Homo sapiens: one gene and its partners. The protein of the gene in region 1 purifies or fractionates together with the protein of each later gene. This does not show direct contact. Each region holds a gene or a part of one and is shown in the gene's direction. Other genes may lie near its edges. The genes, in order: RAB33B, ZSWIM7 and RGP1.

The links.
Region 2: the proteins of RAB33B (region 1) and ZSWIM7 purify together in Homo sapiens (affinity purification with mass spectrometry; one large-scale study listed by BioGRID and IntAct). This does not show direct contact.
Region 3: the proteins of RAB33B (region 1) and RGP1 purify together in Homo sapiens (co-immunoprecipitation; one study listed by IntAct). This does not show direct contact.

Annotation. Positions count from the first base shown.
Region 1 is NC_000004.12:139,460,602-139,464,253, forward strand, and holds part of RAB33B (ras-related protein Rab-33B), read left to right. Parts: intron 1-3,652. UniProt on the Homo sapiens protein: The small GTPases Rab are key regulators of intracellular membrane trafficking, from the formation of transport vesicles to their fusion with membranes.
Region 2 is NC_000017.11:15,975,940-15,979,414, reverse strand, and holds the end of ZSWIM7 (zinc finger SWIM domain-containing protein 7), read left to right. Parts: intron 1-1,251; coding exon 1,252-1,368; 3' UTR 1,369-2,855; downstream 2,856-3,475. UniProt on the Homo sapiens protein: Involved in early stages of the homologous recombination repair (HRR) pathway of double-stranded DNA breaks arising during DNA replication or induced by DNA-damaging agents. Required for meiotic progression, hence for fertility.
Region 3 is NC_000009.12:35,755,686-35,759,237, forward strand, and holds the end of RGP1 (RAB6A-GEF complex partner protein 2), read left to right. Parts: 3' UTR 1-2,900; downstream 2,901-3,552. UniProt on the Homo sapiens protein: The RIC1-RGP1 complex acts as a guanine nucleotide exchange factor (GEF), which activates RAB6A by exchanging bound GDP for free GTP and may thereby required for efficient fusion of endosome-derived vesicles with the Golgi compartment.

The DNA of each region.
Region 1 (3,652 bases):
AAATGTGGTATTGGTGGTTGGAGAGATACCAAACTGGTTCTCTTGATTTGATTTGATTTGCATTGAAATTCAGTGAATGAGAATATGCGCAGTTCAGGTATCCTAAGAATGCTGAAGAATCTTGTGATCCCTTAGCTCAGAAACTTTTGGGCAGTTTCTGGTCTGAAAAAGACTTTGAATTGCTGGGGTTTGGTCCTGGGGCTGGCATGGTGTAAGTAATATACATTTTCACAGACCCAAGCTTTCCTACTATCTGAAGGATCCCAGGAACCAGGTCAGAATTCCTGTTGTTTTTCTAGCCTGATTTCAGAAGCCTATGATTCTCTTCTGTCACTTCTTACGAAGACGAAGAAGGCAGCATTGGTGTGTATATTCAGAGGTGGTGAGAAGAGAATTACTTACTTCTCTGGAATCAGTGGTCAAGATCTCTTGCTTTGGAGACTGTGTGAGGACTCTAAGCAAATTAGTTTAAGCAGAAAGGGAATTTATTTTTTCATATAACTAAAAAGCCTAGAAGTAAATTTCTCTGTCTGCCAGTTCCAACTGCAGCTCTACATGCCCATTCCTAAACTATGGTAGTGACAGGGAGTGTGGGGGTGCGAACCTCTGATTGGTCAGACGTAGGTCACATGCCCTCCCTGGGAGCCAGTGGTTCATGTGAATGGAAAGCAGGGGAGGGCCGATTCCCAAGGAAAATAGGGTGCTATTAATAGAAGGGAGAATGAGGGTTAGGCTGGAGAAAACAACATGCATTCTCTACAGAATCAGGTAGTCCACGTTTAAATTCTGGCCTTAAGACTTACTCGTTTTGTGGCCTTGGGTGAATTACTTAAACCTCAGTTTCCTCATCTGAAGATTGGGTAATTATTACATAGGGTTGCATATATTAAATAAGGGCATGTAAAGGACTTAGCAGAGTTCCTGGAGTATACATGGAATGTGCTAAGCCCCAAATCAATATTAATAGTTTAAGAGTAAATGCTCATTCCTTCAGGAGAGAGATGGTAGTGGGGAAAAAAAACAGGCAGTGAAAGAATAGGGAAAGAGGATGGATAACTAAGATTACTGTTCCAAATTGTGTGTATTTTTTCCTCTAAGGTGATAACTAATGCTTTCTCTCACTGCTTGCTCTCTTCCTTATCACCATTATTATTCTGTAATTAAATCCTTTATTTAAAAAAAATTTTGACCAGGCATGGTGGCTCACGCCTGTCATCGCTTGAACCTGGGAGGCAGAGGTTGCAATGAGCTGACTTCGTGCCACTGCACTCCAGCCTGGGTGACAGAGCAAGCCTCCATCTCAAAAAAAAAAAAATTTCATATATACGTATAATTCCTTTATATAAAACTTCATGAATCTCTAGTTTAAATTCCAATATCAAGTTTTAACAAAAATGGCAACCTAGCTACTGCTAAATACTAATAGTAGATTCTTGTTGTTGATGACAGCTCTTTTTTTTTTTTTTTTTTTTGACGGAGTCTCGCTCTGTCGCCCAGGTTGGAGTGCAGTGGCACAATCTGGGCTCACTGCAAGCTCCGCCTCCCGGGTTCACGCCATTCTCCTGCCTCAGCCTGCCGAGTAGCTGGGACTACAGGTGCCTGCCACCACGCCCGGCTAACTTTTTGTATTTTTAGTAGAGATGGGGTTTCACTGTGTTAGCCAGGATGGTCTCGATCTCCTGACCTCATGATCCGCCTGCCTCGGCCTCCCAAAGTGCTGGGATTACAGGCGTGAGCCACCGCGCCCGGCCATGACAGCTCTTTTGGTAGTTTTATTATCCAAAATGAGAAATGATCTGACTTTAAATTGATTTAATACTCTTTTTGCTTGACCTAAAATGTTAAAGGTTTTAATCCAAATTTTCCATCCCTGATTAACTATTAAATTTCCTTTTCCCCTATTCTTTCAAAGAACACATTTTTATTATTTCATGTAAAAGACCATCTATATAAGAACTACATAAGAGCTTCTGTTAACAATTTAAGTTGTAAAACAACATCATAACTGGTATTAGTGACATCTCAAGAGAACTCTTTGCTTTTTGTATGTGGAGTAGAAATGTGTGTGTCTGGTGTACAGAATCAAATGGCAAATCTTTGAAATAAATTTTAGCTTTCTGGAGTCTCTCTCAACCTCTACTGATTCTGAGTGCTGCCATTTCATGTATTGGTCTGTGTTCACTTAAACCCTGTTAAAATTTTAAAATAAATAAATTTTAGCTTCCTAAGAAGACAAGTAACAAATTTTTGTGATTATTTGAAAGGAATACTGCCTTTAAAATGAAGAATTTGGGCCAGGTGCCATGGCTCATGCATGTAATCTCAGCACTTTGGGAGGCCGATCAGTTGAGCCGAGGAATTCGAGACCAGCCTGGGTAACATGGAGAAATCCCATCTCTACAAAAAACACAAAAATTAACTGGGTGTGGTGACACACTCCTGTAGTCGCAGCTACTCAGGAGGCTGAAGTGGGAGGATTACTTGAGCATGGGAGGTGGAGGTTGCAGTGAGCCAAGATTGTGCCACTGTACCCCAACCTGGCAAGAGTGAGACCCTGTCATAAAAGATAATAATAATTTCTTTTTGAGATGGAGTCTCTGTCGCCCAGGTTGGAGTGCAATGGTGCGATGTCAGCTAACCGCAACCTCTGCCTCCCAGGTTCAAGCCTATTAAAGGCGTGTGCCACCACACCTGGCTAATTTTTCTGTATTTTTAGTAGAGACGGGGTTTCACCATGTTGGCCAGGCTGGTCTTGAACTCCTGACCTCAAGTGATCCACCCACCTCGGCCTCCCAAAGTGCTGTGATGACAGGTGTGAGCCACCACCCCTGGCCAAGTATATATTATGTTATCTTTATAATGTTTAAAATGGCAATAAGATTGCTGTGAGCACATATTAGCCATTTTTCCTAAGATATTTAAGTATTAAATTGGGAAAAATTTCTCTGAAAATATTTCCTAATTTAACATTTACCAGATGAAAGCGTCTCACTTCCTTGGGTCCAAAAGTATCAGTTTCTCTTCTTTTTTAAACATCATGAACCATTCCACTCATAGCTAAGCCTCAAGAGTTTTCTAGGCTTTGCTTTTCGCCTAGTGTCTGTCTGTCTGTCTCCTTCAAAGTTTTCTCTAGCCTTTTATGGTCAACAGTTTTTAATCAGTTGTCCTGTCGTGTATTGGCTGGGTCTCTCACTGCTCCTTTCCTGTCTCCTTGCCTTCTCATCTCAGTGTGCAGGCCTGGAAGGCAGCAGGCAGCAGTAGCCCTAAGCCTTCCCATCATTTAGTTATTCCATGAGAGAAATTTTGAAGCTTCTTTTTAGATATTCCTTTGTAAATGCCTCATTATTAGTTACGTTTATGGCTCTACAGTAAAGTGTAGAGTTATTTCAGGCTGGGCATGATGGCTTTTGCCTATAATCCCAAAGCTTTGGAAGGCCAAGGTGGGAGGATCACTTGACCCCAGGAGTTTGGGACCAGCCTGGGCAACATAGTGTGACCACCCCCCCACTGTCTCTACAAAAAGTAAAAACTTAGCTGGGTCTGGTGACACGCGCCTGTGGTCCCAGGTACTCAGGAGGCTGAGGCAGGAAGATTGAGCCTGGTAGGTGGAGGCTGCAATGATCCATGATTGTGCCACTGCATTCCAGCCTGG
Region 2 (3,475 bases), on another chromosome or scaffold:
GGATGGTTGCTGTGTCTGTGTGGAAAGAAGTAGACATGGGAGACTTTCCATTTTGTTCTGTACTAAGAAAAATTCTTCTGCCTTGGGATCCTGTTGATCTGTGACCTTACCCCCAACCCTGTGCTCTCTGAAACATGTGCTGTGTCCACTCAGGGTTAAATGGATTAAGGGCGGTGCAAGATGTGCTTTGATAAACAGATGCTTGAAGGCAGCATGCTCGTTAAGAGTCATCACCACTCCCTAATCTCAAGTACCCAGGGACACAAACACTGCGGAAGGCCGCAGGGTCCTCTGCCTAGGAAAACCAGAGACCTTTGTTCACTTGTTTATCTGCTGACCTTCCCTCCACTATTGTCCTATGACCCTGCCAAATCCCCCTCTGTGAGAAACACCCAAGAATGATCAATAAAAATAAATAAATAAATAAATAAAACAAAAATTAAAATTAAAATTAAAAAAAAAAAAAAGAGAGAGTAGCCTAGAGACTCTGATGAGCATGTGGTTACAATACCTGTCTTCCTAGGGAGCTGTCAGATTTCAGTGAGATAATCTATGAGAAGCACTTCACAGCCTAGTGCCTCAAGGAATGTTAACCATTGCTGTGACAGCTTTCTGAAGGCAAGGAAGAAATATAACTTAGGACTAACGTGAGGAGTGCAGGTAGTCTGGGTTTTCACCATGGGTTACATACCTTGTGCCTGATGGATCTAAGCCATTTCCCAAAGCAGCAGGCAAAGTAAGTCTGTGTCCACTCTGATTTCTAAAGAGAATACTCCTGTCTCATCATCTTTATCTGCAGTTTTTATTTATTTATTTTTTGAGACAGTCTGGCTCTGTCACCCAGGCTGTAGTGCAGTGGCGTGATCTCGGCTCACTGCAACCTCCACCTCCTGGGTTCAAGCGATTCTCATGGCTCAGCCTCCTGAGTAGCTGGAATTACAGGCATGTACCGCCACACCCAGCTAATTTTTGTATTTTTAGTGGAGACAGGGTTTTGCCATATCAGCCAGACTGGTCTCGAACTCCTGATCTCAAGTGATCCATCCGCCTCAGCCTCCCAAAGTGCTGGGATGACAGGTGTGAGCCACCATGCCCGGCCCATCTGCACTTTTTAGACAATCAGTTAGAGACCCCGTAATCTGTATGCTCTAGTCTTCTCCTGCCAAATAAGATGGTAATGAGAAATCTTGGTTAGACTGGCCAGCCCTGGCCCTGCCTGTTTCTAATAGGTGTGTGTGTTTTATATTCCAGTGCAAGCATCTCTTGGCAGTTTACCTGAGTCAGGTTATGAGGACCTGTCAGCAGCTAAGTGTCTCTGACAAGCAGTTGACTGACATATTATTGATGGAGAAGAAACAAGAAGCATAAAAGGTACAGATTGAGCATCATTCTTTCAAAATAGAATCCTGTCAAGAAATGCATTGAAAGCGTCATGATTCACATGGAAAAGAGGTGAAATGGATCTTCAGACACTTCATGTTACTGTCCCTTTTCCCTCCAGGACTGCAGGAGGTGCTGTGGGTTGGAGCCGTGGGCTGTGGAGGGTTTGTGTATGATGAGAAGCCCTGTACAGTCTTGTCAAGAAATACCCTGAGCCAGTCTCTGAGACGCTTCGGTAAAAAATGTCCCTGGATGGAATCAAGATTTTAAATTCAAATAAAGCCTAATATCATGTTGTGTCCACATTATTTAGTCTTTTTTTTTTTCTTTTGAGATGGAGTCTCACTTTGTCGCCCAGGCTGGGGTGCAGTGGCGTGATCTCAGCTCACTGCAAGCTCCGCCTCCCGGGTTCACGCCATTCTCCTGCCTCAGCCTCCCGAGTAGCTGGGACTACAGGTACCCGCCACCATGCCCGGCTAAATTTTTGTATTTTTTTTTTAGTAGAGATGGGGTTTCACCGTGTTAGCCAGGATGGTCTCCATCTCCTGACCTAGTGGTCTGCCCGCCTCGACCTCCCAAAGTGCTGGAATTACATGCATGAGCCACTGCGCCTGACCCTATTTAGTCTTAAGTAACTAACTGAATTACTAGTAATTTTTAAAAGGTTGGAATGGTGGGCCAAACAGTAAGATGAAGTTTCGACGAGTAGGTCAGTTCTTTTCCTTGGGTCCAGGAAACTATTGAGCAGCAACAGAAGATCAGAGCAGAGATGTGGCTAAACAGTAGCAGGTATGAAAAGACTTAGAGGTTCTGGTTTCTGTAAGCTTCAAATATCTGTGATGCTTGTGCCAAAACAGCTTAAGTAGACTGTATTGTTTGAGAGTTAGTATCGAGAACAAGGGAAGAACTGGTTTCACTCTGCACTTCTGATCTTTACAACAGGGCAATTGAAGGAACAGACTAAAAATCGTGTCCTGGAAGGAAACTACAGGTACTACCAGGGATTTTCAGTCTGAAGAAGAAAAGACAAAATAGATGACAGAAGGAGTATTAGAAGGGAGAGCGATGAGACTCAGTTGGACACCGAGAGAGCAAAGAAGCAATAATACGTGAAGATGAAAATGAAATCAATTTCAGCATAAGAAGACAAGAACTTATGGTAAAGCTGCCCACAGCCAGAAGAGGATCCTAGAAGGACAGGAATTCCCTGTCTGCAGCATTTCATAAGCATGTAATATTGTTGCAGGGATACTGCAGAAGGAGTTGAAGCAGTGGACAGACAGATGATATAGGTGATTTTACAGCCTAAGAAAGCCCTGTGCTTGTGCCCCCAAAACATGAGGTGCTAGTGAATGAATGCTGGGGGAAAGCCCAGGGCCTAGGTGTTGCAATGTTCTGTGGTTGGCAGATGCTTTTTGTTTTGTTAAAAAGTGCAACAGATAAAATTTATCAATACTTTTCTGCTACTCAGGAAACTTGGACTCAGCATAACTTACTTTTTTTCCAGCAGCCTTCAGGGTAAAGTTTAGAAGGTAGATGCAACAAGCCAATGCAGCACCCTAAGCTTGTCTTTTTAAGTTTTATTTTTATTTAACCTAATATACACAGAGTTAAATAATTTTACTTCATAAAATTTTCACACTTTGAGTTCCAAGAACTTAACCAAACTTGAAATTTGGAGAGAAGCAAAATTCCCTATCTATCTATCTAGCTCTAGAAGGCAGAATTTGGTAGAGGAGGGATCCCATTTCACCAGTTTCTTCCCCACGGGTAGTTTTCTGTATATGGAAAAGAATGGAGCTTAAAATTATGTGATGAAAATTTGACTTATGAGACTATCAATCAATCATTTCCCTAAATTAATACAGCAGTTTCTTGATTGAATACTTTATTTATATATATATATATATATATATATATATATATATATATATATTTTTTTTTTTTTTTTTTTTTTTTTTTTTTTTCTGAGACAGAGTCTCACTCTGTCACCCAGGCTGGAGTACAGTGATGCCATCTGGGCTCACTGCAGCCTCCGCCTCCCAAGTTCACATGATTCTCCTGCCTCAGTCTCCTGAGTAGCTGGCACATGCCA
Region 3 (3,552 bases), on another chromosome or scaffold:
GATCTGCCAGGAGGAGGAGCTCAGGCGGTAATGCTCACTCGCCTGCCGCCCACCTCCTGCTTTGTGCTCCCGCTTCCTAACAGGCCACAGACTGGTACTGGCCTGTGGCCTGGGGGATGGAGACCCCTAATCCATGTCACCTTTCCCACCTCTTTCAAAAACAGGTACCTCCAGGAACATTTTGGTTTTGGCCCTTGTATTGACTTCTGAATGTCTAGTTTGAGAAACTGTTCCCAATAAGCCTTCTTCCCCCAGATCTGCACCCTCGCCTCTACCCTAGGACAAGATGTCCTTTTCTCATCATCCTGCCAGGCTAACTTTAAGTCTCCTGCTTTTTCTCACTTGGATTTGGATCCATTTCTTCCTATTTCCGCTCATGTGAACTCTCCAGTTCTCCTTTCTCACCACTCTCCTGCTAGCCATCTCTTTGGCACTAAAGGCCCTGGTCAAATTGGATTTCTTTCATTTTTCCACACTTCAAAGACCCATGTTCTAGGTATTCTCCATAGGGATAGTCTCTTTGGCATTTATTTGGTTTTTCTACGTTTTCAGTCCCATTTACTCCAAGACTCACTCCCTGCCACCTAGTGCATCAGATACAGCTACTTCTGGCTGACTTTTCAAGGGGGACCACCCTACCTGTCATCTCTTCACTGTTCAGAAATGACTGTGTCAGTGCACCTCAAACTCCCTTGCTGTCCTTTTCCAAGGAGACAGCTAAGGTGGATGGAGATGCAGAATGGACCTCACGTTCGCCCTAGTCAGGACTGATACCCTTTCCGTTTCAGAGGATTGCCAAGAAAAAACTCACAGTTGAGGCAGGGTGCTCTGAGGTCGGCTGCGGTGTGGGAGGCACGGCCTGGGCCTGCTCTCTGGGCTGGAGCAGGTGGATTCGAAGGCCTGTCTAGCACGAGGGCCCAAAGGTCTTGTCAGTGGCCAGTAGCTCTGCCGCCTTTCCCAGAGAGGGGGTCCAGGGGACATCCTGGAAGGCTGGGCCCTGGGCCACCTTCTGCTCTTGCAAGCTAGAGCCAGCCCAATAGGGGGCGGATGTGAGTGGGGAGCTGGGGCGCATGAAGGTGGGGGTGATGCCGAAGGGGAAGGGATCGCCAGTGGGGATTGGTGCGTGTGCGGAAACGGGGACAGAAGTGAAGGTTCATCGCCTATAACGAAGATGAGGTAGGCATATAGGGGCTTCTGGAAAGCTAGAGGCTGGGCTGAGCCAGGAGTCCTCTCCCAGAAGTTGGGGGGCGGTGCAGAGGTGTGGGTCGAGCCCGCATGCGTGCCTGCTGGGGAGGGGGTGAGTGGTGAGGACCAGGCCCGCTGGGTCCTGGGGGCGCGGTGGCTGGCGCGCAGGTCCCGGAGGGGGCGGCTGGCGCGCACTACACGCTTGGGAACAAGGAAAACATCCGCCGGAGGCCCGGCCGGGCGGCGCTCCAGCCTCGGGGCAGGTGCGCGGAGAGGAAGTGAGAGCATTCCGGCCCCCCCACCCCAACCCCGGCCGCTGGCCCTCTGGTGAGTCACAGCCGACCCCCGCCGCCGGAGGGAGAGGGGAGCTGCGGGCCAGAGCCCCGGAGGGTCTGGAGGAGCCAGGAGGGTTTCTGGGAGCAGAGGGTCACTTAGTGGGCTTCTGTCGTGGTGTCGCTACGGGCGCGAAACGGACACTGAACACAGTCTGACTGTATGGAGGCAGGTGGGGAGGGATCCCCTGGGAGAACTTGGCGGGCCGAGAGCAGACCCCAGGGCAAGGAGGGGCCCCCGAGGGGGAAACCGGGAGTCGGGCAGGTGGCGTAACCCAGAAAGGGAAGGAGAGCCGGATTGATTGGGGTGAGAGAGGAAGGAAGCACGCCAAGTTAGGCCTGGGAGAACTGAGGGACCTGAGGAGGGAGGAGGGAGACCAACACAGGGTGGGAAGGCGGAAATGGCCAAACCCCAGGCATCAGGTCTGTCCAGAGGCTGACGTAGACAGTGAAGGGTGAAGGGTAGGTTTTAGGAGTAGGGGGAGTTATGATTATTTGGTTACATTTTGGGATTATTTGGTCTCACAGGTAGAAGGGAGCCTGCTGGTCTCTGTGTAACGGATGGCTTAAAAGCAAGGTTGTCTGCGTCTTGGATTACTGTCTGCCATTCAGCCTTTGCCAAAAAATTTGGCACTGATCTGCACATTTTTATAGTCATTTAAAATTGTATGACTCTGTCAAATGATTTAAGTAATTTTGGTGGATTTTTAAAAATAAAAAAATAAAAATAGAAAAGTTGCACAATCTAATTCAATATTTGACTTAAAACCAAAAGTGAGGCTCTCAGATTGGTAATATGGTATTCAGCCTTTTTCTTGTTTGGCTTTTGTGCCATTTGCCCCTCACTGACTTGATTGAATTCTTTGTGGCTGATGCCTCAGTTTTTCTGGATCAGTAGTGCTGCACTTCCACTTTTCCTCTCCCTCATTTTACTGTCTTTATTTTTAGCCTTTTTTCTGTGTAGCCCTCTAACCTGCCCTTTATATTTTGAACCAAATAAAACATTTCTTGGAATGGGAGCTTTGGACTACAGTATACAGACAAACAACTCACAATTTTAGCATATGAGGCTACTATCTTCTGTGGATGTGTATGTAATTATACAGTTTCTGTATTTATCCTGTGGCTGATAGAAAAAGTTAAAGCTGTTTAATTCACCATAGTATTTCTACAACACAGCAATTTATTAGTCTGACTTCTCTTCTAAAATCAACTCTAAAATGGTATTTTGTACTTGTCTCAGAGACGAATTCTGCCATGATCCTTATGATCTGTGTTATGTTGGGCCAAAGGTGATTACTTTATAAATTATAAAGATCCCTAAACTCTGCATTGCCTTTGGTCCCAAACAAGCAAATCTGGGTCAATTAATGAAAAAAAAAAGAAAAGAAAAGAAAATGTCTTACTTTGGGCCCTGTTGCACTCTCCCGTGCTGTTTTAGCCCCAGCCCTACTCTATTCCCAGTGGCCTTTGCCTTCATTCCTTCTTTGCTCTGCTGGGCATCTTGAGAGGAAAACTTCACACCGACTTCCTCTACTATAAATTCTCTCCCTCCTCTCAACTCTACACTTCTCTTTGCCAACATACACCACTACTGCTTCACTGATTTTTTTTTTTTAAGCCCACAGTCCTTTCTGGCTCTTTTCCACCTTTAACACTCTTATGTTGAAATCTTCCGTTTTTCCTCCTTTCTCTTTAGTAAGACCTCAGGTTTTTAAAAAAGCTAGGCTTGATTGTTTATTCTGCATGGTCCACTTCTGCCTTCCTTCCTCTTCTATTACCCTTTTCTTATTCTAGACTGTTTTTAAACTCAGTTATGCTTGCTTTCACCAAAGCCTTAACCTTTCCTGTGATTAGAAAAAGATGCTTATGTTTCCATTACTTTTCCTACAAGAAAACGCATTCTCAAATTCATATCCACTTCAAACTCTCCCAACGTTTTGCATCCAGAAGCATAAAGTGGCCATTATTGTGAAGTCCACTGAGTGACCATTTAAGCTTGGTGTTATGCCACACACTGTATAGTGAATTTCAT